Linked DNA regions of Homo sapiens: region 1 is linked to region 2. The links come from fine-mapping of genetic effects on gene expression. A gene starts in region 2. The other region holds a variant in brackets. All regions are shown on one strand. Distances are from middle to middle.

Region 1 (11,655 bases), 87 kb after region 2:
TGAGCAAAAGAAGCCAAATACCAAAAAGCTGAAAAATAAACCATAATTCTGGTATAAATCTATTCGTGTGAAATTCTAGAACAGACTAAAGTGATCTCGAATGACACAAATCAGGTCAGTGGGTGCCTGAGTTGGGGTGGTGGTGGGGTGTGGCTACAGGGAAGGGAGACAAGGAGATTTCTGCAAAAGCAGAAGTATCTTGATTGGGGTGGTGTTGCATGGGTGTGTATATTCGTCCAAATTTATTGACCTGTACACGTACAACGTGCGAATTTTACTGTATGTAAGTTATACTTCAATAAAGTTGATGAAGAAGAAAAAGTCAATAGTACCTCCACCATTCAGCTGTGGCAACACAGGGTGGGGAGTGGAGAAAGAAATACAGAGAGGGCAGAGTGTGTGAAGCTAATGAATTTCACACAGCGCATGAGGCTAATGAATTTCACACTATAAGACTTTCCCTAGCCCTCAACTGTGAAAGTAGGTTCATGGTAACTTCTCAGAAGTCTGTATGCCATATTGAATGAGAGAGATCAGCAGGACACCATCTCCCCACAGCATATTTTTTGAGGGCAGGTCTCCTAGGCTATTTTTTTTTTTTTTTTGAGACATACTCTTGCTCTGTCGTCCAGGCTGGAGTGCAATGGTGCGATCTCTGCTCACTGCAACCTCCACCTCCTGGGTTCGAATGATTCTCCTGCCTCAGTCTCCCAAGTAGCTGGGATTGCAGGCACCCGCCACCATGCCCGGCTAGGCTAATTTTTGTATTTTTAGTAGAGACAGGGTTTCACTATGTTGGCCAGGCTGGTCTCGAACTCCTGACCCCAGGTGATCCACCCACCTTGGCCTCTCAAAGTGCTAGGATTGCAAGTGTGAGCCACCATGCCCGGCCATGTCTCCTAGGCTTTTAAGCATAAAAGTAGGATGCTGCTTAAGACTTCAGCACATGGAGTGGGTAACAGTGAACTTCAAGAATCTCATTTGAAAGGAAATATTTTAAAGCTGTTTGGTAAGGTTTCGACCAGGATTCTTGATTTGGTTACTGTATAACATGCTGTATGTGTCGAAAATGCAATATTATTTAGGTCAGACTACTGTTAAATTGACATGTGTGTGTAGCTTATTAACGCCAGCATTAAGTATGAAAATAACACCACTTCATTCCTTCCTCCCAGACACAACCAAGCTTTTGATTCTGTCGGCAGAACCAGTCACTGGCAATTGCACAATAGCGCGTTTTGTGGTTGTTCAGAAGCATAATTAGAGCCAACATTTTCTGGTGCTTTCTAAGTGCAAGGCTCTGCATGCATTTATAACGTAAGTGCTTTCTATTCATTTCATGTCATCCTCACAACAGCTTTTTAAGATTTTAGCAGGTGAGGAAACTGAGGTCAAGCAAGTTTGGCTGACTTGCCTCAAGGTCACCTGTGTGTGCTGGTCACACTGCCATGAGGTTTTGGGGCGAGGGTTGAGCCAGCACCTGTTGCACTGCAGAACTTAATTTTTTGTTTTTTTTTTTTGAGACGGAGTCTCGCTCTGTCGCTAGGCCGGAGTGCACTGGCGCGATCTTGGCTCACTGCAACCTCCGCCTCCCGGGTTTCAGCGATTCTTCTGCCTCAGCCTCACAAGTAGCTGGGACTACAGGCACGCGCCACCACACCCAGCTAATTTTGTATTTTTAGTAGAGACGGGGTTTCACCATGTTAGCCAGAATGGTCTCGATCTCTTGACCTCCTGATCCGCCCACCTCGGCCTCCCAAAGTGCTGGGATTACAGGCGTGAAACACTGCGCCTGGCCAGAACTTGATTTTTTTAAAACACTGTACATAAGAGATTAGATTTACTCTTCATGATAAATATATTTGTGTTAATGTTAACAACATTTTACCCCATATTTTCCAGTGCCAAGGCAGTGAAACAGGAAAGCATAAAATGAAAAAAGAAAAAAAAAAGCTTGCATTCTACTTCTAGGATGTAACTTCTTTTTGATCCTTTGGGATACTATTTCATCTCACCAGACAAGTTTCTATAATTTCAAAGTCTCTCTCCTAGAAATAGACAAATAAGAAGACAAGTGCCAGGTATGAATCAACACTGAGTCACCTGGAGCTGTGCTTTGTCAGTGAATTTAAACAAGTCTTTGGGTCACAGTTCCCTTCTGCGTATCAGGTAGGAACAGCACTTCGTTGTTCTTACCGTTGGGTATAAAGCACTTCCCTACACGCCATGTCGCTTGACCCTAGCGGTTCTATGAGATAGGAAGGGGTTACACTGTGACTCCATGTACCAATGAGAAGAGGGAGACTGGCAGTGATGAGCACATTTGCTCAAGATTCTCAGCAATGCAAGGGCAGAAATCCTGGACTGCTGATTCCCAGGTGGCCACGAGCAGCCCAGCAGGCTCAAGCATCAGGGTCCAGGGTCCATGGGACGTCCAGTTTTTGCCTAGAATTTCCTCTCTCAATTTTAACATGGTTAATAGATGTTCAACTTGAAGGTGACAGGAAACAAATATTCTGTTTGGCAAAATACAAAAGTGCATTTCCAAGTGAACACCAAGTTAGGCACCAGGAAATGACAACAGGTCCCCTTAGTAAACAGTGATCAATTACCTTATTTCACCAAACCTAAGATGCTACTGATTCTAGAATGCACCATTATTTTGTACCACCAAGAAAGAAAAGTACTTGTCATCAAACTGTCATACAATATTGATTCTGAGATGCATTCTGACCTCAGATATGTTGAAATGCATCTTAATATCGATGAAACATGGTAATTATGGCTGGATTTCTTGAACCGGGGAGGATAACCTGTTTAGAAGTCACTAGCTCATTAACGTGTCAATATGGCTGAGCAGCAGCAACGCCGAGTGGTGGGATTATCAGTGAGGAGAGAGGAGCCCAGACAAGGAGGACATCACTCCTGCCATCCAGGAACCCACCTCTTGGTTGGGAGGACTGTCCAGGAAAAGTCCAAGAGCCTGGAGCTGCAGACCTCTCAACAGGTCTTCGGTAAAAGCAGCTGTCATGGAAGTGAATTCTCAGGTCTCCTTTGTCTCCTCAATCATCAAAATAAACCAAATTATAAAACACTCTGATCTTCTGCCTAAATTCCGACAAGGTATTTCAGAATCTAGGTGTCAATTTCTTGACACTTTTACTTTTTTTCAATGAAGTGTTAAAGTGGGACCTAACATTGACTAAGTACATGATACATGTTAGGCATTGCCCTAATTCACAAAATTATCACATTTCATTCTCAAAAATGACCTTAGGAGTTGGGCATTATTATCCCTGTTTAAACAGTGAAGAAACTGGAGTTCAGAAAACCTAAATGGGCAAGGCAAGCCAATTAGGCTTGAACAGCTGAGTTAGTTTAAACCGAAGTCCCCCTGAGCCTCAAGGCCATGCGCTTTCCACCGGACAGGACGGAAAGCACGGGCTCGCAAAGACTTGTAAAAGCTTGAAAATCACCGCCAGACTAGCCAAGGAAGGCTGATACCCCAACTACACAGTAAATACCAAAACCTCTTCTGCTACAGGACACCTCGTTCAACTTGAGGACCTGTTTAATCAGCAGGGTGGCCGTTCATGGGTGAAGAGGGTAGCGGCATGGTCCACCTGGGAGCAGCGGGAGAGATGGCCTTGTGAGGGTGGGCCCAGGGACAAACAGCTAGTGAGAAAGCTGCTGCCATAATTCACATCAGCTCCCCAACGGCCTGCCCTCGGCAGTAGCATGGAAATAGGATGTAAAACGGATAATAAATCCACAGGATTTAGGAGAAACAAAAACAAGGGAAGACTGTCAGGAAAAAAACAGAGGCATTTTGGAACAGCGGTCGTCTCCCAGGGTGACTCTGCTCCCTCCCGCTCTCCCCACGGGACATTTGGCAATGTCCAGAGACATTTTTGGTTGTCATCCTTCGGAGTGGGGTGCTACTGGCATCGTGTGGGTAGGGGCCAGGTGTGTTCTCAGACATCCTACAATACATGGAGCAGCCCTCTTCAACAAAGAATTATTGGGTCCAAAATATCCATGGTGTCGGGGCTGAGAAACCTGACTCTTGAACAACCTTAAGGAAACAAAAGTGGTGAAGACATTGCCCTTACCCAGCAGCTCATCAACCAAAAAGGCAAAGAAATCACAGGGACTGGCTCTGCATGGACTCCAGGTGCTCACCAGGAAACAGATCACGCACTTGTCCAGCCATCCCTGTGATCTACCACTGTGTGCACCCGATCCACGCCAGGCTCAAGAGAGGAGCTGGAGAGGAGGAGAACAGGCACGGTGCTGGCCCTCAAGGTGTCACCACCTGTCCGGAGGAGACGCGCATGTGTGGAAACACACACCTGAGCCTGTAAATACATGTGTGCTTGTACACACAGGCAGAAAAAACCGAAAAGGAATGCACCAAAATCCTACCAATGATAACTCAAAATCATCATTTTCTTCATATTTTCAATGAAAATATGAATGAATTAAAAAATGAAAAAAAGTCAATGTTTTTCAGTGAACATGTTATACTTTCATCAGTTCTGATAAAACAGGCATATCCCAGGGCCACATGTTCTCGCCAGCTGCCCCACCTCTATGGTATGGCAAAGGAGGCCAAGATGGGGAGGGAGCAACGGAGCAGAGGAAGAACCTACGATTTTGTTTGCTTGTTTTCAGACAAGGTCTCCCTCTGTCACCCAGGCTGGAGTGCAGCAGCACAGTCATAGCTCACTGCAGCCTCAACCTCCCAGGGTCAAGGGATGCTCCCACCTCAGCCTCCCAAGTAGCTGGGACTACAGGTGTTCACCACCACACCCAGATACTTTTTAAAATTTTTTGTAGAGATGGGTGTCTTGTTATGTTGCTCAGGCTGGTCTAGAACTCCTGGCCTCAAGCCATCCCTCCCAAAGCACTGAGATTACAGGAATGAGCCACCACGCTCAGCCTGTTCCCACTGTTAACACTCTTCCCTGCCAACAGGTGAAACCGCTGTCTTTCATCCACTTAAGTCCTTCAGCAAATGTTCACTGAACACCCACTGCGTGTCAGGCACTGTCCCATGTACTCTTTAAGATACAACAGTGGACAAAACAGACAACAACCCCTGCCCTTGTGGTGTTTCTGTTTTAGCAAGGGGAAGCAGACAGAGGACCAATAAGGGAAATATAAAATACCTGTATGTTCCATGGGTATAACAGAGAGAAATAAAGCAGAGAAGAGGGCTAGAGAATGATGAAAGGGTTATGATCTATATAGGAAAGTCACAGAAGTCCTCGCTAGGGTGAGGTCGCAGAGGTAAGTGGGGGCTGCCCACCAAGGGCTTGCAAGCCAGTGTGAGAACTTGGCTTTCTCCTGCATGAGATGGAAGGCCACTGGAAGGTTTTGAAGAGAAAAGTGACAAGATCTGACATATCACACAGGATTGCTGCCCTAACTAACTCAGAAAGACCAATTAGGAGGTGCCTCCTAATGAGCCGGGATGAGAAGGGTAGAGGAGGTGAGAAGTCATCAGGGTGCTGAGAACGTTCTGAATTTGGATTTGGCAAGAATCACTGATGGATTCGATGTCAGAAGGGAGAGAAGGGAAAAGTCAAGACTGACTCCAGGGTTTACAGCATGAGCAACAAGGAGGATGAGATGGAGAGGGCTATGGGAAGGCAGGGACGAGCTCAGAGGCATGTAATTCTGTAGAGGAGGTGCTGCTTCAGCAACACCGGTCTGGAGTTCAAGAGAGAGGAGCAGGCAAGACACAAAACCATGAGGTTCCTAAGGGTAGAGACAGTACTTACAACCATCAGAGTGTACAGTACAGTCACACGTCGCCTAACAACAGGGATACATCCTGAGAAACGTGTCATTAGGCAATGTCATTACTGTGTGAGTGTCACAGAGTGAACTTACACAAACCTAGATGGTAGAGCCTACTATACACCCAAGTGAGATGCTCTAGCTGATTGCTCCTGGGCTGCAAACCTGCACAGCATGTGACTGTACTGGATACTCTAGGCAGCTGGAACACAGTGGTAAGTATTTGTGTATCTAAACAAATCTAAACATAGAAAAGGCACAGTGAAATATCTTATGCAACCACTGTGGTCTATGCAGTCCATCATTAACCGAAACATCTTTATGCAGCGTATAACTGTACATAGAGAAGACAAGAGGTCCAAAGAGATAACCAGGTGAGCTGCTGCCGATGAGCAAGAAGAGAAACTGGAAGAGTGAGATGCTCTGGAAGCCAAGTGAAGGTCGTACAGCAAAGGGGAGGCAATGGGCCAGCAGTGGTGGCTCACACCTGCAATCCCAGAGCTTTGAGAGGCCAAGGTGGGAGGATCACTTGAAGTGGAGTTCAAGACCAGCCTGGACAACATAATGAGACCCTATCTCTACAAAAAATTTAAAAATTAGTCGGACACGGTCGTGCGTGCCTGTAGTCTCAGCTACTCACGAGGCTGAGGCAGGAGGATCACCCGAGCTTAGGATGAGCTTTGGTCAGGCTGGTCTCGAACTCCTGACCTCAAATGATCCTCGGCCTCCCAAAGTGCTGGGATTACAGGCGTGAGCCACCTTGCCCAGCCTAAAGCTGATTTTAGATATGACTTCACAGAGGTTACCTTTTTAAGAATAACAAAATGCAACAAGTTAAGATTTTGGGTGACTTCCAAATCCAGGGAACATATCAGCATTTGCTTAGTTAAAACGACAGATGCCTCTGAGATGGGGTCAGCAGGACCCCCTCCTTTTCAGCCAGGGACTCGCCGGATTCTCAACTGCGCAGGACCACGTCAGCATTGAGCTCTCCTCTCCCATCGACCTGCCTCCCTCTTCCTTCCCTTCATCAATATCACCACAAAAGCTGTCGCATCTAGAGCCCCACAAGGCTCCAGGCATGGTCCAGATGCTTTATGTACACTAGTCCTAACCACCACATACCACATAGAGATAGGTATAAAGTTACGGTTTCCAGTACACAAGTAAGAAAACAGAGACACAGAGAAGTCAGGTAACCTGCCCTACCTCAGGTGACGCAGCTGTGCTGGGGTTTGCACCCAGAAGTCTGCCTCAAAAGCCCTCCTCGTCCCAGCATATACCCTATCAATGCAACTGAAAATGCCCCCTCTTCCTTCACTCACCAGCCCCCGCTCCCAAGGGTGATATTCTAGTTCTCAATTTATATACACAATCTCTTTAAAAGTTTAATTGCTTTGATTGCAGGTCTCATACCCCCAAACAAGATTTCTAAGAAAATTCAGTAATTCTTTACTCAAAATTTCTCAGGAGAAACTTCTCAACAAATACTGGTGAAATCTATAACCTTAGGGAGGAGTCTATGACAGGCACTCAACTTTGCCCCAACCTCCCAGAGCAAGACAAGCCTCCTGTCATCTGGGGGATATTCACCGGTAAGAAAAATGGGTGCGGGGCCACTGGCCTCTTGCCCATGTCCATCCACTGGTTAAGTTCAGGAAGTGTCACCAGTGAAGGCACGACACCAGCAAGAGCCCAGGAGCTCAGGGCTGCTCTGTGGCTGCGCACCTTCGGTTCTGGGCTTGACCTCTTTAAGAGGAGCCACACTGAGAGCAGCAAACAGGATGACCACGAGCTGGCCTCAGAAAAGCTTTGTTACTTTAGATTTTTCATAACATTATATTTTTATGTTACAGTTTTTGCTTCCACAACAGGACTCAGAGCAAATCCAACAATTAATCATTTGCAGATAACTCTAAAGTGACTTTTGGGGGCTAAAGTGTGTAAACCAAGAACTTTTGAGTTCA[C/T]TGCCTTTTCTAAGCCAAGGCCAGCTATCGTTTCCCAGGCCTCAGTAAATCCACTGTATAAATCAGACAGGAGTAACCTTTTAGGAGTTAGCATTTCTGGGGCTCTAGGAGGCTACAGAGGAGACTGTATACCCCTTTAAGAAAGGTTGGGGTGCCTCCCCCTAGAACTCAGGCACCAGCCCCAAAGTCACCCAAAGCTGGAGACAGAGGCTTGTCATAATCTCCCAGATGCCAGCGAACCACAGAGGCCCCTGGCAGGCCCAAGCCCAAAGCCAGGAGCACAACCTGAGCCTCCAGCTTGACCACAAACCCTGCCTCTGAGACCACGGCTGGTGAAACAGTAACTCTGTGAAAGCAGCAGGCCCAGAGCACCCCCCACCCCTCTGGTGGGGACACTCCAGGCCTGTCCACAGCAGAGGGATTCCCAAACCTGAAAGAGCTCGAGCTGTTCAGAGTGACAGGATGTTAGAGCTGGAAGGGGCCCCTGGGACCAACTAACCCAATGCTCTCACTTTATAGAAAAGACAAGCAAGGCTGGGCAAGGTGGCTCATGTCTATAATCCCAGCACTTTGGGAGGCTGAGGCAGGAGAATCACTTAAGCCCAGGAATTCAAGACCAGCCTGGGCAACATAGTGAAACCCAATTTATACAAAAAATTAAAAAAGAACAAAATTAGCCAGGCATGGTGGTGCACGGCTCCTACAATCCCAGCCACTGGGGAGACTGAGGTGAGAGGATCACTTGAGCCCAGGAGGTCGAGGCTGCAGTGAGCCATTATCATACCACTGCACTCTAGCCTGAGCAGCAGAGAAAGACCCTGTTAAAAAAAAAAAAAAAAAAAAAAAAAAGGAAAGAAAAGAAAATATTACTGAGATCCAGAGAGAAGCTACCGTGTGCACCCCAACCCACTCAAACACCCTCCCCAGCAAAACCTCAAGAAAAGACAGTGATGCAAAGGACAGGACATCCAGGTGGGTTGGTTTCTTAGGGGAGCTGGAGGTTTGGGGTGCCAAAGACCTTAGAGAATGCCCCTGTCCCTTTAAGGGCTGCACTGCTGCCAGCACCCTACGTGCTTACTCAAAGGGGATCCGACAGCCCGGCAGCCAGGCTGGGTAATGATTACAGTCAGCACAGCCCCCTGAGGACCTTAAATGACAGCTTGAGTCTAGGCTTCCTGTGATCTCCGTGCACAGTATCTGGAAGGGTTAGGGGAGAGCATCTTCCCCCAGTACCGAACCAGGTTCCAACTCACCCAGGAGGAAAGAGATGGGAAGAAAGCCACATGGGTGGAGAAGCAGCGGGGAGAGAGACCAACTTTAGAAAGCCTAGAAGAGGACTCATGCAGCACAAAGAGACCACACTGCAACCACAGGGGCGAAGAAGTCAGGAAATGCTGCCGCAGCAGCCAGCCCAGTGGCGAGACCGCAAGCCAGTGGCTCAAACTGGGATGGAGGGGGCGGAGGTTTAAATTTAGCCAGGTAAACAGAGCCGGGCCAGGGGTGGAGAGGGCCTGGTAGGGGCTGTGCAGTCACCTGCTCTCCAGAGTTGGGGCATTTCTCGCTGAAGGGAACAGTCCAGCCAGAACTGTACCAAACAGCGGATCCGTTTTCAGGGTTCCTCCAGCATGCTGCTTGGGGGAGCACACAGGCTGCGCCCCAGAGATGGACAGAAGGTTAGTTTTACTTTAAAGGGTGGCTCAGATTTAAAATGAGCATGTCTTTTCATCTTGATGGCAATATCGATGCACAATCCCTCTGCTGGATGTTTCTGGACTCGTAGATAACGGTGAAGACGCTCAACAGAAACCAGCCAAGGCTGCCCGTAAGTGGAGCTCCCACATGCTCTCATTGCCCAGAGGGCTTTTACATCTACTGCTGTTGTGTGTCTTCAGAGACCTGATGGAGTTACCCAACAACCAGTAACTACCACCACGACCACACACTCTGAGGACTGCATCCAGGACTAGCGCTGGAGCAAAGATGGGCTCTGAAGACCTGGTTAGAAGATGAAGGAGATAAATGGCAGGCGGTTTGAAAAGGAGCCAGAGAGAAAAAGCTCTCGCTGACACGAGAGCTTTTTTGGACTGACTGGTTTCTATTTCAGAGAAGACAAGGACTATCACCACACGTAAAAACTTCCCTCCATGCTAGAGAAGCCAGGCTGCGGCAATCCAGAAAGCAGCAGAACCATCCTAGAATTAAAAATTAGAACAGACCAGCCTAGTCCTCTGCCTTTCTTGACCTTGAAGAAGAGCAAACAAAAAATCTTTCAGCTGCCCCTAGAGTCAGAGGGTGAAATACACAAGGGAAGAAGAATTCCAGATTTTTTCTTTTCGCAGCATATGGCTCCCAGCAATTTTGGCAATATCCCTTTAACTTATGCTTTTTGGACAGAAAAAATTTTAGAAAAGGGTAGTTTCAAGTCAATAAGAAACCCCTGGTGATATTACAATCACCAAATGAACTAAAGAGGGGACCGGTTTCAGATACCTTGGAGAAACACACAGACACACACGCTCAATCACCTATTCATATTCAAATACATAAGATATCAGAGCCTGGGAAAGTATGAAATCCATGGGTGGAAAAAGACCAGCCAGCTCCTCCGAGCCTGGCTCCTGCTCCCCTGGCAGGCAGATCCCACAGAGTGTCACACGCCCTTGGCCTGACTGTCTTTAAGAAGAGAAAGAAAGGGAAGGGGAGATGTCTCTCCTGACTGCCTTTGGGTATTGACCCATCCATTGTCACTTTAGGTTCCTTTACTCCCTTCACGTCCTGCCCTGTTGTCCGCGCCACCTGCATCTGTTAGTAAAAAGCCCTGGTTTTAATTGTGACCCTTCCCTTGGACTGCTGGACTTGTCATCACCATGAAGACGCCAGCTCCATCACTCCTCTCACAAGGGTGCCTAAGAGGTCTCTTTCAGCACTGCCATCCTTCCAAGGAGACACACCTCCTCCTTCTTGCTATTTATAACCACGAATCTTGTGTGTCAAAGCGAGAACAGACACTATTTTGAGATGGAGGAAAACCACCCCTCAGTCTTCCACCTCTAATAGGTCGGTGTGTTTGCCAGGACCTGTGTGTGTGAGCCTAGGCAGGGGTGCGGCTGCAAGCTCCAGGTCTGGCATCCGCTCGTCTGTGCCTGAGATGGGGAGTCTTGCCTTTGCGTAAGTGAATTCTGCCGGTTAATCGGATGGCAGGAGAGGCTGGGTGCAGGAAAGGGTCCTTAGGCCTTCTGAGGGCGTGCCCGCTGCTGCCTGGGCTCTCCGTTGCCTTAGGGGCCAGCCACAGGAGGGGGCTCCCTAGGCTTCCCCCGTGTGCCTGGACGAGTGCTGGTGGCTGGCTAGCGGCTGCCCCTGCCCTGCCGAGCCAGGGTTTTCGGCTCCACACTGACGGCACGGGCACAGACGTCCCATCGCAGCTCTGGTGACTGGGCACATTCCGGGGCCCCTGGAGCAGTCTGGGGGGTTGATTCCACGATCCCTAGTTTTTCTCCTCCAGGTACCAGGCTGAACCTCTGCCCAGGGGAGTAGCAACTGGAAGCTGTTGCCAACGTGGCCAGGTGGCAAAAGCAGTGAAGAAGGGCCCGGGTGAAGTGGAGGGGACACCGGACACACACACACCCCTTCAGCTGAGTAACCAACGCAGGGCCGGGGCCACCTCAGTTTCCCTCCCTGTAAAACAGGGCCGGGCAGGCTCCCCGCAAACCGAACTGCCTCTCCCAGCGGTCTGCAGCAAATACCCGGGGGTTCGGCTCCGACTGGAGCGCGGGCTACGCGTCCACCGAGGCTCCAAGAAAGTGAAGGAGGAGGTCTCGTCCCGCCTCTCCCACGGCGGGGACGTGGAGCGCCGGAGCGACCGGAGAAGCACAAAGCCGAGCGG
Region 2 (15,714 bases):
TATGGCTGAAGAGAAGCCTTTATAAGGAAATGGCCAGAATTTGAACTGGATCTTAAGAATGGGGGTCAGGCAGATAAGAAGACGAGGGGTGGGGAGCAGCTCTTCATTTTAATAGAGGGCAAAAAGAGCCAAACCTCAACAGGAGAGCACAGGCCTCATTCAATGAGTAGGAGTGACTAGTTCAGTGCAGCCCAAGTACATGATAAGCCATGGAAAGCAATCAATCCTTTGCGTGGTACTCCCTTTGGGCCTTTAAAATCCAATCACTTTACATACATCACGATCTAGTCTACTTGTTTTCACTGCCATGTCTCACTTTGAGCTTCCCCTCATCCACTCTCCACCAGTTCAGAGGCTCTCCCTTTTGCTCATCATCTACCAGCCATATAGAGTGTTAGATGAGAAGGCTGCAGATTTGCTATCTGAGTAAAAATGCTAGTGGCAGAGACCATGCAAAATAGGTGGTGATCGCCTGCCATTTCCCTGTCAACTTGGCAATGACAACAGCCCTTAAAACATAAGAAGAAAGCCAGCCACCCATGGTGCTGTGAACCCCTCATCTGGCCTTCAGACTTATAAAAGAGGAATTCTATATCCTACCAGCAAAACACACAAAACAAAGGAACAAAAAACTACCAAGTATTGATATTCTTGTTGACCCAAGAGCAATTTCTAACAATTCATGGGCATGAGGGAAGGTCCAAGGAAAAGGAATGTGGACAGGATTAGAGAAAAAAATCAAATGAACGGAACCTTTATCCTCAGGGAACCCTTACAAAGATAAGGGTTGAGAGAGACACAGAGCGTTCTTAGTTTTCCTGGGATAAAAGAGGCCCTTAGTACTCCCAGGAATCAAGGTACTACCGTGACACACGGTGCCCTTCCTCCTCATCTCAGTCGCTGAAGGAGGCCTCCGGCTGTGCAGGCAGGACCTCAGCCCCTCTTACTCACCACCAGGAGTTGGCGTCTGTCAGAAGCTGAGCCCAGCTGGACAGCAGAGCAGCCGTGAACAGCAGCAGCAGGCTGGGCATGGTCGGCCTCAGCCCTCCCCAGTGCCCTGGGACTGACAGTTTCCAGAGTAGGGTTCCCTGGAGAAAACAGAAATGGAGAGTCAGTGTGGAAACTCAGCGGATAAGGGCAGACCAGGAGCCGGGGTGAGGCGGAGAAAGTTGCACTGATGCTTACGTGCTGCGTGTTCCCCACAAAGAAGCTCGGCCTCTTTCCAGCCTCCGCCTCCCACTGCTCATCTTCCCACCCTAGGACTTCTGTCTCTTACCCCAAACTGTGGGAACCCTGCACAGGACCTAATTTCCAAAGAAATAATGAGCTGAGAAACCACAAAGAGAAATGAAAACAAGTAATTTCAAGAGCGGAGCTTGCGGCGTTCCTCCGTTCGGCAGCCGGGAGGCCACTTCGGCTGTTGTAAAGCATACCTGTCCTTGCTGCAGAACATCCAAAGAAATGGGGCCCATCCTATCCACTCCCCCACGTGCCTACCTCTCATTCCAGCCCAGAGACTTATTTCTCTGACCCTCAGGCTCTCCTTTGTAGGATTAAAACATTTTGGTGAATTGGATTTACCTGCACCCAGGGAGGAGTCTCCCCTCTCCATCTGCGCCCTTCTCACCCTCAGCGGGTTTCCTAAGTCCCAACCCCTGCGTACAGATCAAGGACTTTTCACTTTCTCAAGGCAGCTTCTCTGAGAAATGTACAAGCCACGCCGCGAACCGCCCGCCCGGAAAGCTCTGGCGGCTGAGGTGGTGCCTCCCTAGGCGGCCCCTGCCCCTCCCGGCACCGTGGTCCTCGAGGGCGGCACCGAGTACCTTGCCCAGCAGCTGCACCGGGGACACTGCCGACGCCAGGCGGCAGCTCTGGCATCAAATGCCTGAGCTGAGGACGCATCTTCCAGATGCCACAGCCCTTCCCTGCTGGCTCCCGGGCCTCCCGCCTCTTGGCCTCCTGCCTGCTGTAACCCACGCCTGTTCCTCTATCCGCCCCCGAGAGCCCCTGTCCCCAGGCCCTGGGACCCGCAGCAGGTCAGTGCTGCTAGAGCGAGCCTGCGCCTCGGGACACACGGCCCCTGCGGCTCCCCCGCGGTCCTCCGGGGCCCCCGTCTGGGCGTGACCCGCGCCCCCAGCGGCCTCCCCGGGGCCCCGGACCTGACGAGCGCAGCCCCGCGCGCCCCGGCTCACTGCGCCACTCTCGCGCGTCGGCGTCCCCAGGCTCCCCGGGAGGGGGCGGCGGGTGCTTCGGGTCATCAGCCCGGGAAGTATTTTTGTCCTGGGGCCGCCAGGAGAGGACAGTGGCCCGAGCAGGGTCCAGGAGAGCTGGGACACAGCCCTTCCCCAAGCCCCCTTTTGATTTTCCTTCTCGAAGCCTCGGCTGGGGCGGGGGCACCAACAGGCAGGTGTGTGGGGCCGGCAGGGGGCAGATCAAAGAAGACACTTGCTCCTTCCCCTTTGTCATGCAGAGCCAGCTCGGAAGTGAGCCGGCCCCCAGCCCGGGACTAACAGCTTCCACGCCCGACTCCCCTCAGACCCCCCCTCCTCTGGAGGATGCCCCTCCCCCTCTCCTCTCCCCCCATAAATCCTCCTCGTCCCCCGGGGCAGAAGGTCTGTGAATGCACCGGCTGGAACCACGAGAGATGGAGCAGAGATAGGGCTGGCACCAGGAGCTAATGGTTTTATGGAGGGGAGGCGACCAGGTCCCGAGTAGGGAGGACGAGAGAAAAGCTTCAAAGCGTTTCCTTGTCCAAATATCCTTAACTCCACCTACCAGTCCTTCCCGGGGTTGCAGAGCTAGGGCCGCCCGTGCCCTCCTGCTTCTCCAGCCTCCTCCCCGCGGCCCCGAAGCCTCCTGCCCAGCCTATGCCCAGCCCGTGCCCAGCCCACCACCCTGCCGCCCGCAACACCTACTCTCCCTGGGGACTTTGATCCTCACACATTTCCACCACCAGATAGCGGAGTTCTTCCTCCCCGCCTGTGACACTTGTCCCTCACACCAGTGCCTCTCACCTCTGTCACCCGTCCATCAGGCTCCAGTGGAATCTCTCTGGTCCTGCAGTTCCTAGGTTCAAACTAGGCTACATTGGGGGCCACCGTTTCCGAGCCAAAGACAGGCCTGGGTGCCTGCTAATGGTCACTGTGGCTGTGACTGCCCCCAGGACAGGCTGACACGGTAACTAGAGCCAGACTTCCCAGGAGCTGCTAATCCCGCCCTCAGTGCCTTATAAACATATATGGAGACAAGAATCACTCCCGCAGCTGTTTCTACTCCATCCCCCGCCCCGGGCTTTCCACGAGGCGGCTCTCAGCCCATTAAAAATGTTTTTTTTTTTAAAAATTGCCCCCCAAAATGGCTCTAACATGTGCAGTGGCTTCTTTCTCTGACTTCCAGATGTGTGGTACCTGAAACTGAACTCCCCCATACACACATATGCACGCGCGCGTGCACACACACACACACAACACACACACCAGCCCCCTCAGGACGCTCTCTGTCCTGGCAGACAGATGCGAGCCAATTCTTGAGTGGCCATAGAACTGAAGCCAGGCAGCTGTTTGCCCTCTCTTACATTCTTGTGCTGGGGTGGGCTGGGGTGGGAGGAGAAAGGACCCCTTAGAAAGGTAAATGCTGGCGACTGGTTTCATCAGCATGGGCAGAATGGAAATTTCTTGCCTCAACCCGACTGGGAAGGCAGGAAGCTGTATGGGGGCTGACGGTTTTGTGTTAATGAGCAGGTCACATTGGGACCCCTGTTTGTGGGTCACTAGTGAGATTTATAGCAGGATTCAACCAGGGGAGGCTCTCCTTGTGTAGGAAGAAAGATCTGGTAAATGCCCAACAGGCAGGAAAAGGCCTTTGCAATAACTACAGATTTCCCCAGGGTCTAAAAAGATTCCCCTTCCTAAGAGGCAAGTGTCAATTCAAACATACCAAACACAGTAGTTAAGAATGCGGGGCTCTTCGGGGGGCCAAGGTGGGCAGATCACCTGAGGTCAGGAGTTCGAGACCAGCCCGGCCAACATGGTGAAAGCTCACCTGTAATAAAAAAGTATAAAAATTAGCCAGATGTGGTGGCACATGCCTGCAGTCGCAGCTACTTGGGAGGCTGAGGCAGGAGAATCGCTTGAACCTGGGAGGTGGAGGTTGCAGTGAGCCAAGATAGCACAACTGCACTCCAGCCGGGTGACAGAGCAAGACTCCATCTCAAAAAAAAAAAAAAGTGGGAGTCAGGGTCTCTATTCTTTAGTAGTAGTGACTAGGAGGCTGTGGGGAGGGAAAGATGCAAAATTCCCAATCAGGATCCTTCCAGAAGCCAGAATGAGCTGGTCAGACATCTGCTCTGTTCCTCCTCTTCATTCATCCATGCAGCCATTCAATACATTCATTAATCAAATGAATTACACCCTGGGTGCCTAATATGTGCCAGTTACTGCTCTAAGTGCCAGAGACATGGCAGTGAACAAACAAATGTATCATAAGTTAGGTCCAGTGAATACTATGAGGAAAATAAAGAGGGGACCAGAATCAAGAATGGGAAGGGGTGGTAGCATACTTGATGTAGGGTTCTTGGGAAGACTACTCTCTGAAATATCTGTGCCCCCAAAACCACTGTGTAGGCAGGATGGTGGGAGGGGATGTAACGATGCTACACCTCCAAGACCCCCTCTAGAGCACATCCAAGGTCCCTGCTGAGATGGCACTGTCCCACTTCACCATCACAACCAAAGAGGTGCGTGTTGGAAGACAGGAACTCCAAGATCTCCTCCTTTTTCTGCTAGGACTCAGTCACTCACTTTCATTTCCTTAAGGGGCCATGTCCATCCAGCCTAGAGTTAAGAGACCAAAAAGAGAGACCGGGACAGGTAAAGCTGAGACCCCAAGCAACTCTGTGCTTTCCACCATACTTCAGAGCAGTGCCTGAAACAACATCTCTGCCCCACAGGATGAGGGGTTGATTTCAGGTCATTAGCCATTCACACAAACCCACTGATATCTAGAACTGACTTCCCCAGCACCCAGGGACTCAAGCATCTCAAGACTCCTGCAGGAAATGGAGCCACCTCCCACATCTGCCCCTCTCCTCAGACAGGCACCGTCACATCCAGAAACCTGTCCAGAAATAGCCACGAGCCTAGGTGGGGACCTCTTCAAGGGTGCTGAGCAGGCCTCCTTTGTCACTGAGGCCACACCTTCCAAGATGCCTTCCCTGACCATCCCTCCCAGAGAAGGCCCCCATCGCCATTATTCTACTTCTAGCTTCTTGCATGTTTTAGCCGCAGCATTTAATGTGCCATGGAATAGTGTGGCGTGCTCATCTGTTGTGGTTTTGTTTCTTTCCCTCATATGCTCTGGAAACGGTCTTATTTACCATTTTTCTCCCCAGTGGATAGGATAGTACACAGGGGTATGTGGGAGTTGCTAGAAAAATATTTGTTGACTGAAAGAAAAGAAAAGCACTCTTACTTGGTCACCCAGTGGGGAGCTATAGAATGTGTAATTTAAAAATACATTTGGCGGCCGGGCGCAGTGGCTCACAACTGTAACCCCAGCACTTTGGGAGGCCGAGGCGGGCAGATCATGAGGTCAGGAGATCGAGACCATCCTGGCTAACACGGTGAAACCCCGTCTCTACTGAAAATACAAAAAAATTAGCCCAGTGTGGTGGCGGGCGCCTGTAGTCCCAGCTACTCAGGAGGCTGAGGCAGGAGAATGGCGTGAACCTGGGAGGCGGAGCGTGCAGTGGGTCAAGATCGTGCCACTGCACTCCAGCCTGGGCGATAGAGTGAGACTCCGTCTGAAAAAAAAAAAAATACACTTGGCCTGGAGTAGTGGCTCACGCCTGTAATCCCAGCACTTTGCGAGGCCGAGGCAGGTGGATTACCCGAGGTCAGGAGTTCGAGACCAGCCTGATCAACATGGAGAAACCCTGTCTCTACTAAAAATACAAAATTAGCCAGGCACGGTGGCACATACCTGTAATCCCAGCTACTCGGGAGGCTGAGGCAGGAGAATTGCTTGAACTCGGGAGGTGGAGGTTGCAGTGAGCTGAGACTGCGCCATTGCACTCCAGCCTGGGCAACAAGAGTGAAACTCTGTCTCAAAAAAAAAAAAATACACTTGTGGCCAGGTGCAGTAGCTCACACCTATAATCCCAGCACTTTGAGAGGCTGAGGTGGGAGGCTTGCTTGAGCCCAGGAGTTCAAGACCAGCCTAGGCAACACAGTGAGACCCTGTCTCTACAAAAAAATCTAAAGTTAGCCGAGCATGGTGGTGCCTGGGAGGCTGAGGCCAGAGGATCGCTTGAGCCCAGGAGTTCAAGGCTGTAGTGAGTCGTGATTGTGCTATTGCACTTCAGCGTGGGTGACAGATTGAGACCCTGCCTCAAAAAAAAAAAAAAAAAGAGAGAGAAAAAAAACAGGCAGGGTGCGGTGGCTCATGCCTGTAATCCTAGCGCTTCGGGAGGCTGAGGCAGGTGGATCACTTGAGGTCAGGAGTTTGAGACCAGCCTGGCCAACATGGCAACACCTATCTCTACTAAAAATACAAAAATTAGCTGGGCGTGGTGATGGGTGCCTGTAATTCCAGATACTTGGGAGGCTGAGGCAGGAGAATCGCTTGAACCTGGGAAGTGGAGCTTGCAGTGAGCCGAGATTGCACCACTGCACTCCAGCCTGTGTGACAAAGTGAGACTCCGTCTCAAAAAAAAGAGAAAAAACAAAAGAATAAAAGTACATTTGCAATTTTGTTAACATTCCTGGCATAACAGGGTAAACCATCTTAGCAGTCTTTGGAAAGGAAATGCTTCCCTTTGTGAACTCCTGGCTGCATTGCTGTTGAAGGAGGGGCCTCAGACTGGATGATTTCCATGGGACAGGGGAGGGGCAGGTGGAGGAGGAGCAGGCCTTGCTAGCTGGAGTCCTGTGGCTTCTCTCCCTTTGGCCACTCATTTCTCGTACTGTAGAGAAAGACTGTTTATGGACCTCAGCACAATAGACAAATACCTCCTAAAATGTACATCAGGTTCACTCATTTCCTTCCCAATTTCCAGGTGAGTACTCACCCTTCTGGCATCTGAACACCAGAGTAGTTCTTCGTGGTCTCACTCACAAGTGCACATAGACACAATACCAGTTTTCCCTAAAATACTAATTTTACATCATAATATTCCCCTATTTGAAAACGTATAGTGGTTCCCAGTTCTTTATTTCCAATGTGGCCTCATCTTACCTCTCATTGTTTTCCTGAATTTCCCAACATGAAGTCTCCTTTTCCAATGTCCTTCTACTCCTAGAACAAACCCCACTTTTCCCCCAAGACCTCATTCTGATCCTCTTCCCAAGGAAGCATTCTCCTCTGCTCTGCAGCAATCCAGATATTAAACTACTTTCACATCCAGGCTCAAGATTCACTCCCTCCATAAAACTGTGCTTGATTAACCCCACCCCATGAGAATCTCATTCTCATGGGTTGAGACCGAAGAGGTCTCAACCTCTTCGGCCCTTATGAATCCATGTATCTGGTCTGCACCTCCCTACCCCACTTATGCTGCCTTGGGCTGTTTCTCAGGTGAAGTATATACTTCTTACTTCTCTAGTAGATCAAATGCTTCCTAAAGGTTCAAACTTACCTTTTCTACTTTCTCTGCGAGCCCCTTTGCGCCCAGTATGGTTTTACTCAGCAGTAACAAATGTCTTTTGATTGATAACCAGTGACAATAGCTAGTATTAATCAACATTTATTGAGCACCTCTTAGTGCACTGCACTAAATGTTTCACATCTATTTTTCTCATTTAATCTCTGCCAACATTTGTGGCATATGCCATTATTATTCTCACTTTGAAAACAGGGAAACTAAAATTAAGTACTTGTTCATACAGCAATTGAATGGTTGACCCTGGCTTGGAATCCAGATCTTTCTACTCTTCCCCAAATACAGGTCCTCCCTGTCACTAGAGCATAACACCTTCTCTGCTTTCTCTTTTTTTTTTTTTTTTTTTTTTTTGAGACAGAGTCTCACTTTGTTGCCTAGGCAAGTGGCATGATCTCAGCTCACTGCAACCTCCGCCTCCCGATTCAAGTGATGCTTGTGCCTCAGCCTCCCGAGTAGCTGGGATTACAGGTGCCTGCCACCACGACCGGCTAATTTTTGCATTTTTAGTAGAGATGGGTTTCATCATGTTGGCCAGGCTGGTCTTGAACTCCTGACCTCAGGTGATCCACCTGCCTCGGCCTCCCAAAGTGCTGGGATTACAGGCGTGAGCCGCGGTACCCAGCCTCTTTCTTTTCTTCGTTGCACCATTGCCCTGTTACTACGGCTGCGAATAGTGTGAAAGTCAGAAAACAACATTCTGATATGCAGGAGATATCACAAAAAGCAAGGTTTACAAAACATGCAAAGTTACTAGTATTAATACACACACTTAGATACACACACAGCCTTGTGGGCGGAAAGAACTAGACTTCTCCCCTAGCCAAAATGATATGTGGGTTGAGAACAGGCCAGGCTGCTTAAAGCTGGAGGAATTAAAACATAATAGTTTTAAAGAGTTGGTACTTAGTTTTACTTTGGGATGGAAAAGACAAACCAGGTCAAGAGCTATGGGTCTGGAAGGGTGGATCCTGGTTTGGTGTGAGGGGCTCATGGAAGATGCAGAGGTGAGGTACAGAGTGCACGTGAAGAAACATAAGGTTTGGAGAGAACGTGGAGGGACATTTTAGATTGGCCTTAACAGTGAAACTCACCAAGAAACTATGTCCTCAGCAAGAAAGGCTCTTACTTCGATAGCACAAAACTGTCTTGCCTTTCAGTAGATATAGCGATCGAGGAGCTCTGTTCAAAGCTTAGATTTGACCATGTGACTTCTTTGCTTAAAACCCTTCAAAGAGGCCGGGCGCGGTGGCTCAAGCCTGTAATCCCAGCACTTTGGGAGGCCGAGGCGGGCGGATCACGAGGTCAGGAGATGGAGACCATCCTGGCTAACACGGTGAAACCTCATCTCTACTAAAAATACAAAAAATTAGCTGGGTGTGGTGGTGGGCGCCTGTAGTCCCAGCTACTCGGGAGGCTGAGGCAGGAGAATGGTGTGAACCTGGGAGACGGAGCTTGTAGTGAGCCGAGACTGTGCCACTGCAGTCCGGCCTGGGCTAAAGAGCGAGACTCCGTCTCAAAAAAAAAAAAAAAAAAAAAAAAAACAACAAAAAACCCTTCAAAGGTTTCCTATCTCCTAAAGGATGAGTCATAACTCCTCACCCCATTACATGACGCCTTCCAGAATCTGGCCCCGCCAACCTTTCCATCCTCTTTAGGATTTCATGCTGTGCTTTAGAACCCCAAACTCCTGATACCTCCTTACCCAAACCCATCCTGTTTCTCCCCGCTGTGCCTTGCCGACTTCTGGGAATGGTTTCTCCTCTCTCTGTGCAGAGCAAGCTCCTTTGTCATTGAGGCCACACCTTCCAAGAGGCCTTCTCTAACCATCTCTGCCAAAGAAGGCCCCCAGCAGCATCATTCTATTTCTAGCTTCTCACATGTTTTAGCCACAGCATTTAATGTGACATGGAATAGTGTGGCATGCTCATCTGTTGTGCTTTTGTTTCTGTCCCTCATATGCTCTGGAAACGGTCTTATTTACCATTTTCTCCCCAGTGGATAGGATAGTACACAGGGGTATGTGGGAGTTGCTAGAAAAATATTTGTTGACTGAAAGAAAAGAAAAGCCCTCCTCTGGCTCTCAGGGAAAGAGGAAGCAGGCCACGAAGGCCAGCCTCTCATGAAGACAAGGAGAGTCCCTTCGACTTCCATACAACTTGGTCCATTTGCTGTGAGGAAGCTGCTTGACTGTACCTCCCCTTATCTGAGAATCCACTGCTAATTGAGATTTTGGAGATTCCTGGTCCCAGACATAACTCTCTGTCTTTTCCTCAAAGACATAAGTAACATTCAGCTTCTAAGAGTAAAGGCTGGCACTGCTTAATAAGATAATGTAAAAATGTGTAAGACCTTGGGGAGTGCCCCAAGGTGCATTGGTCTAGCTGGGGAAAACAGAAAACCTGCCCAGAAAAGTACACTATAAGAAGTGTCATCTACTAAAAATACAAAAAATTAGCCGGGCGTGGTGGCGGGCGCCTGTAGTCCCAGCGACTCAGGAGGCTGAAGCAGGAGAATGGCGTGAACCCGGGAAGCGGAGCTTGCAGTGAGCCGAGATCACGCCACTGCACTCCAGCCTGGGCGACAGAGCGAGACTCCGTCTCAAAAAAAAAAAAAAAAAAAAAGAAGTGTCAGAAGAGCCTAAGGGAGCAGCTGTACTCAGGATGTGGGATTTGAGTAGGGCCTTGAAGAATATGAGGGCTTTTAACAGGAGGAAAACAGCAGAAAGGATTTCACATGAAGATGTGGTTTGGTCAAAGAGAAAATTTCAAGGTGCTTTTCGAAGAAGAGGAGAGATAGTGCAATGAAGGAGGACTTCAATAATTTCCACTGTTTTCAGAATTGCTTGTTCGTGAAATTTATGTAGTCCCTCCAAAATCTAATATGGGGCCAGGCATGGTGGCTCACATCTGTAATCCCAGCACTTTGGGAGGCCGGGATGGGAGGATCACTCGAGGCCAGGAGTTTGAGACCAGCCTGGCCGACATAGTGAGGCCTCATCTCTACCAAAAAAAAAAAAAAAAATAGCTGGATATGGTGGCACATGTCTGTAATCCTAGCTACTTAGGAGGCTGAAGCGGGAGGATCACAGGAGGTCAAGGCTGCAGTGAGCTATGATTGTACCACTGCACTCCAGCCTGGATGACAGAGGTCTCTAAAAATAATAAATGTTAAATTAACTTTTTAAAAAATCTGATTTGGTATTCCCATTGATAATTCAGCATCAATTACCCAGGAAAACTCCCATCATGACATGCTTCCAGTTTCTGGGGGCAACACTGCAGGAATGGGGTCAAAGACATAGGGGACCAGTCACCCTGGATACTGTCCTTTTGATCATAAAATGTGGGTTGAGTGAATCTTCCTAGAGAGCCAAATATAGAAGTTAAAATGCTGATTGATTACACACCTTCATATCAATCATGCGTGTTCTCTGTCTTCCAATTCTCTTCCTGTATCCAGGCCTGAAATCTTGGTATCCTTTGTGACTCCTCCCTCTTCTTTGCCTTCCACGTCAAATCAATTGCCAAGGTCTCTTGATTGTATCTCTATAGTGTTTTTTGAATATATTCCCTACTCAACATTCCTATTGTCATACTATGAGCTACTACAAGAGCCTGCTAATTGACCTCTTTTTCTCTAACAAATTGCAATATCTTATGTCCCATTCTTATCTCTTGAAAGGATAAATGAATTTCCCCATGGCAGTTCTCTAACTTTCAAAATAACAGGGTGGGGCGCGGTGGCTCACACCTGTAATGCCAGCACTTTGGGAGGCTGAGGCGGGCAGATTACGAGGTCAAGAGATCAAGACTATCCTGGCCAACATGGTGAAACCTGTCTCTACCAATAATAGAAAAATTAGCCAGGGGTGGTGGCGCATGCCTGTAGTCCCAGCTACTTGGGAGGCTGAGGCAGGAGAATCGCTTGAACCCGGGAGGTGGAGGTTGCAGTGAGCCAAGGTCGTGCCATTGCACCCCAGCCTGGCCACAGAGCGAGACTCCGTCTAAAAAAAAAAAAAAAAAATTTGCTGGGTGTGGTGGCGGGTGCCTGTAGTCCCAGCTACTTGGGAGCCTGAGGCAGGAGAATCACTTGAACCCAAGAGGCGGAGGTTGCAGTAAGCCAAGGTCGCGCCATTGCACTCCAGCCTGTGTGACAAACTGAGACTCCATGTCAAAAAAAAAAAACAACAACAAAAGAATAGCAGCACTCTTGATAGCCTCAGACCAGAAGCAACAATATCCATCAACAATAGAATGGACAAAACAATTAACTGTGATATATTACAACAAAGAATTATTATGCAGGAAGGAAAACAAACTACAAGTTACATGCAACCACATGCATGGATCTTCTGAACATAATATTGAGAAGAAGCAAGTCACAAGAAAGTATATGAACTATGGTTCCATTCATAGCAAAACTATCTTGTTTGGGGACCCACACATTGGTGGTTAAGCCATAAAGAAAAGCAAGCAAGGAAATGATGACATCAGGGAGTGGTTTCCAAGGGAGGGGGCTGTGATGAGGAAGGGGCTCGAGGAAGTTCCTGGGATACCAGCAATGTTCTATTTTCCAACCTGGTGATGGATATGTGGCAGTTCACACTACAGCAGTTTATTAAGTTGTGCATGTATTATGCTGTATGCAATTTTCTGCATTATATTAGACAACAAAAATATTTAAAAATAAAAAAGTCATATTAATACCTAATGGCTTGAAGGTCTTTATATATTATATTTTCTTGGCGGAAAGTACAATTATGGTCTCATGGGGCATGTGACCTTTTTTATTTTTATTTTTTGACTTAAAAAAGAAGATCCTCATACTCAAAAAGAAACATGTTGGGAAATTTAGGTAGAGACAACCACGTGGGATGACTATTTGAGGGCAGGTGGGGCTGGTGGGAGGGAGTTCTGTGCAAACCAATGGGTATTGCTCTCGCAGTGCCAGGCCTGGATCAACGGCACATGAATGGCAGCCGCTACGCCAGGAGCCGACTCAGCATTTCGCTTCCTCTCTTGCTCAGTCCAGGAAATGAGGATATGGCAAAATCACCCTCTGTCTCACTTTTTTTTTTGGTCAGTTATTACTATTTAGTTCTGTAGCTATCTGTTTCTCTTGCATGAATTTTTTTCTAGATAGCATTCTTCCCCAAAAAACATTTTTAAAAAGTAGTAACCAAAGATGAATCCAATAATGTACCAATGACTTTATCTGCAAATTCCACCACCTCTTACGAGAATCCCCGGATGCTCATCTTTCTTCTCAGCTCAATTAACACAGCCTTTCCCTGCCAGCCTTAATTATTTCTCCCGAGGGTCTCTGTCTCTAGGTTTCTCTCTAGTTCTTCCTTCCAAGCTTTGCTCAATGAATCCTCCTAGCCCTGAGGCATAGTATTCTTTTGTGTGATCTGCTTGTGTGTATGCATAATCTACAGTTGGTAGAAATGAAAATAAAAAATTGGGCGGGGAGAGGGTTGTATCAGCTCCACCATGATTGCAGCAGTCCTTTGGGAAGCCTCATCTCCCAAATATTCTGTGTCTTTTCTCATTGTTTCTCTGGCTTGCAGGAGAAGAAATGTCTTAGGGGTGGGGAGGGGCTGGGGGCTTGGTGGGAGGGGCTGGGGGCTTGGTAGGAGTGATGAGATTTAAATTCTGGCCCTTAAGAAAAATGCTAAACTACCCTTCCCCAGAAATGTGTGTGCCATTCCCAGTGATAAGGTACACAATTTGGGAAGTATATAGCAAAACAGACCCAATCACAGTGCAGGGTGGCAGGAGCGCAGAAACAATTCCTGAGGCCTTCACACTAAAATCTAATGCCTGATGTTCCAGAGAATAGAGCTTCCAGCTTCCAACTCCTGGTGCCTGGAGCAGTGTGAAAGTGACCAACTCATGCACTGTGAGAATAAATTCCACAAAGTAGGCAGAGCAGATCCCTAAGACTCTGGGTCCCTGTACAATTCCCAGAAATGGCAGATCTCAGATGACTCATCTTACTTGGAAAAGCACAATTTTCTCCCCAGGTATCAAGCAAAAGTCCACTGGAAGTCTTATTCTGTGCAGATGATAAGAAAGAGGAAGTTCCCTTCTCCTGAATACTAATAAAATAGTTTTAAAATATGCTCTAGAAAAGAAGGCAGAAGTGTATAGGTCACAGGTCAGTGTGGTTTAGGAATTGTTTCAAGAGAACAAGGCTATGGACTTTGTTTTCAAGGGCTGGAGGATTGAGGGGTGTTTAGATGCTCTTGTCCTGCAAGTAATCTATTTTCACCAGATCTAGAGTTCTGGGGTATTGTACTATAGGGGAAAAACATTTATTTGTGCAATTGCTACTGTTTTCTGCAAATTCCTGTCTACTTAGAGTGAATGAAGTAAATAAATGGACTTCTGGATCACCACCAAGGGCAGGTGGATAACCTCTCTCTATGCCATGCGCTAATTAGAATAAAAATGTGTCTTGTGCTACCAAGTAGAGGTACTACTGTGTTTGCAAAATGGAGCGTATTTTTAAAGGACCTGGGGAAACCATGCAACTTTTAAAACCAGGATCACCAACTGGCAGTCAGCTAGCTGTCTTTTCTTTTTTGGAGACATCGTCTCACTGTCACCCAGGCTGGAGTACGGTGGCATGATCACAGCTCACTGCAGCCTCGAACTCCTGGGCTCAAGCGATCCTCCCACCTCAGCCTCCTGAGTAGCTGGGACTACAGGTGTAAGCCACTGTGTCTGGTTAAGTTTTTAAATTCTTTTGTGGAGATGGGGGTCTCCCTATATTGTCCAGGCTGGTCTTGAACTCCCGGCCTCAAGCAATCCTCCCTCCTAGGCTTCCCAAAGTGCTGCGATTACAAGCATGAGCCACTGCGCCCAGCCCAAGTGTCTTTGACTAACACAATGTTTACAAATCTTTGGAATATGAATGTCTTGGTGGGTGGCACACAGGTTCTCTAACTTTCCCAAATCCCCACTGCTCTCTGCTGTCTTTCTCCTGGCTACTTCACTCATTCATTTTGGAATGTTTGGAGCATTCACAAGTCATGTTCCAAAAGACTTTCAAATTTGCCATGCAGTTCTTTTTTCTTTTTCTTTTCTTTTTTTTGAGATAGGGTCTCACTGTGTTGCTCAGGCTGGACTGCAGTGGTGTGATCATGGCTCACTGCAGCTCTGATCTCTCTGTGGTCAGGTGATCCTCCTACCTCAGCATCCTGAGTAGCTGAGACTACAGGCACATGCCACAATGCCCAGCTAATTTTTGTATTTTTTTGTAGAGTTTCACCATGTTGCCCAGACTAGTCTTGAACTCCTGGGCTCAAGCAATCCACCTGCCTCAGCCTCCCAAACTGCTAGGATTATAGGCATGAGCCAGCCCATCATGCTGTTCTTTAAAGGGACCTCAATATACATATTATATATATATTTTATATATTACATATATGATAATCATTGTACTAAATGCATAGTCACCATTTATAAATCTGGATTTTTACAGGTGGTATTTTCTGCAAGTAGTTATATTGACTCTTTTTCTAAGCAATTCTGTAATTCCACCCCAGAAACTAAGTTTAGATAAGAAGTTATGGCCTCACCTGATTCCAGTCTTCTCGCTCTCTTGAGATCTTACTGAAGCTGTCAACCTTCTGCTTCAAAAATTAGCAGTTTCCATTTGGAAGAATAGGATAATTGCTTCATTTTTGTAAACAGGCAGGAGATGAATGTTGCAATGAATGGAACAGCGGAAGGACAGCACCCCTGGGTCCACAGCACCTTCAACGGCGAGCCCCAGAGCCTGTCTTCATCAGTCAGGTACCCAGGGGCAAGCGGCAACACAGGGACCACGGCTAGAGGGACTCTAAAGGCAGAGCGTAGCGGAGAGGCTGCAAGCGAATTCTCCTCGTCACTCACTGCTCATGCAGAAACGACACCTGGGTTTTTATCTGGGGGGAAACCAGTAGCTCTAAGTAATGTGGGTCCCTCTAATGCTGTCCCCAGCTGTCGCCCCTGTGTCTCAAACTGCTCCTTTGATTGTGCGGGGAAGACCTTCCAAATCCTTTGAGAGAA

The links.
Region 1: its variant is fine-mapped to the expression of WNT5B in lymphoblastoid cells (GTEx, PIP 0.97).

Annotation. Positions count from the first base shown.
Region 1 is chr12:1,531,391-1,543,045 of GRCh38, reverse strand. LOC107984507 (a long non-coding RNA gene) reads left to right here and starts at 10,854. Exons shown (of 2, transcript NR_160736.1): 1 at 10,854-10,940; 2 at 11,275-11,655. RefSeq lists enhancers at 8,989-9,138, 9,289-9,488. The variant C/T (reference allele first, on the strand shown) is at 7,773.
Region 2 is chr12:1,616,672-1,632,385 of GRCh38, reverse strand. It overlaps WNT5B (Wnt family member 5B), which reads right to left and starts at 3,155. Exons shown (of 5, transcript NM_032642.3): 1 at 3,015-3,155; 2 at 952-1,088. The coding sequence starts at 1,031. RefSeq lists an enhancer at 1,428-1,527 and silencers at 1,709-2,003, 1,958-2,017, 2,048-2,237.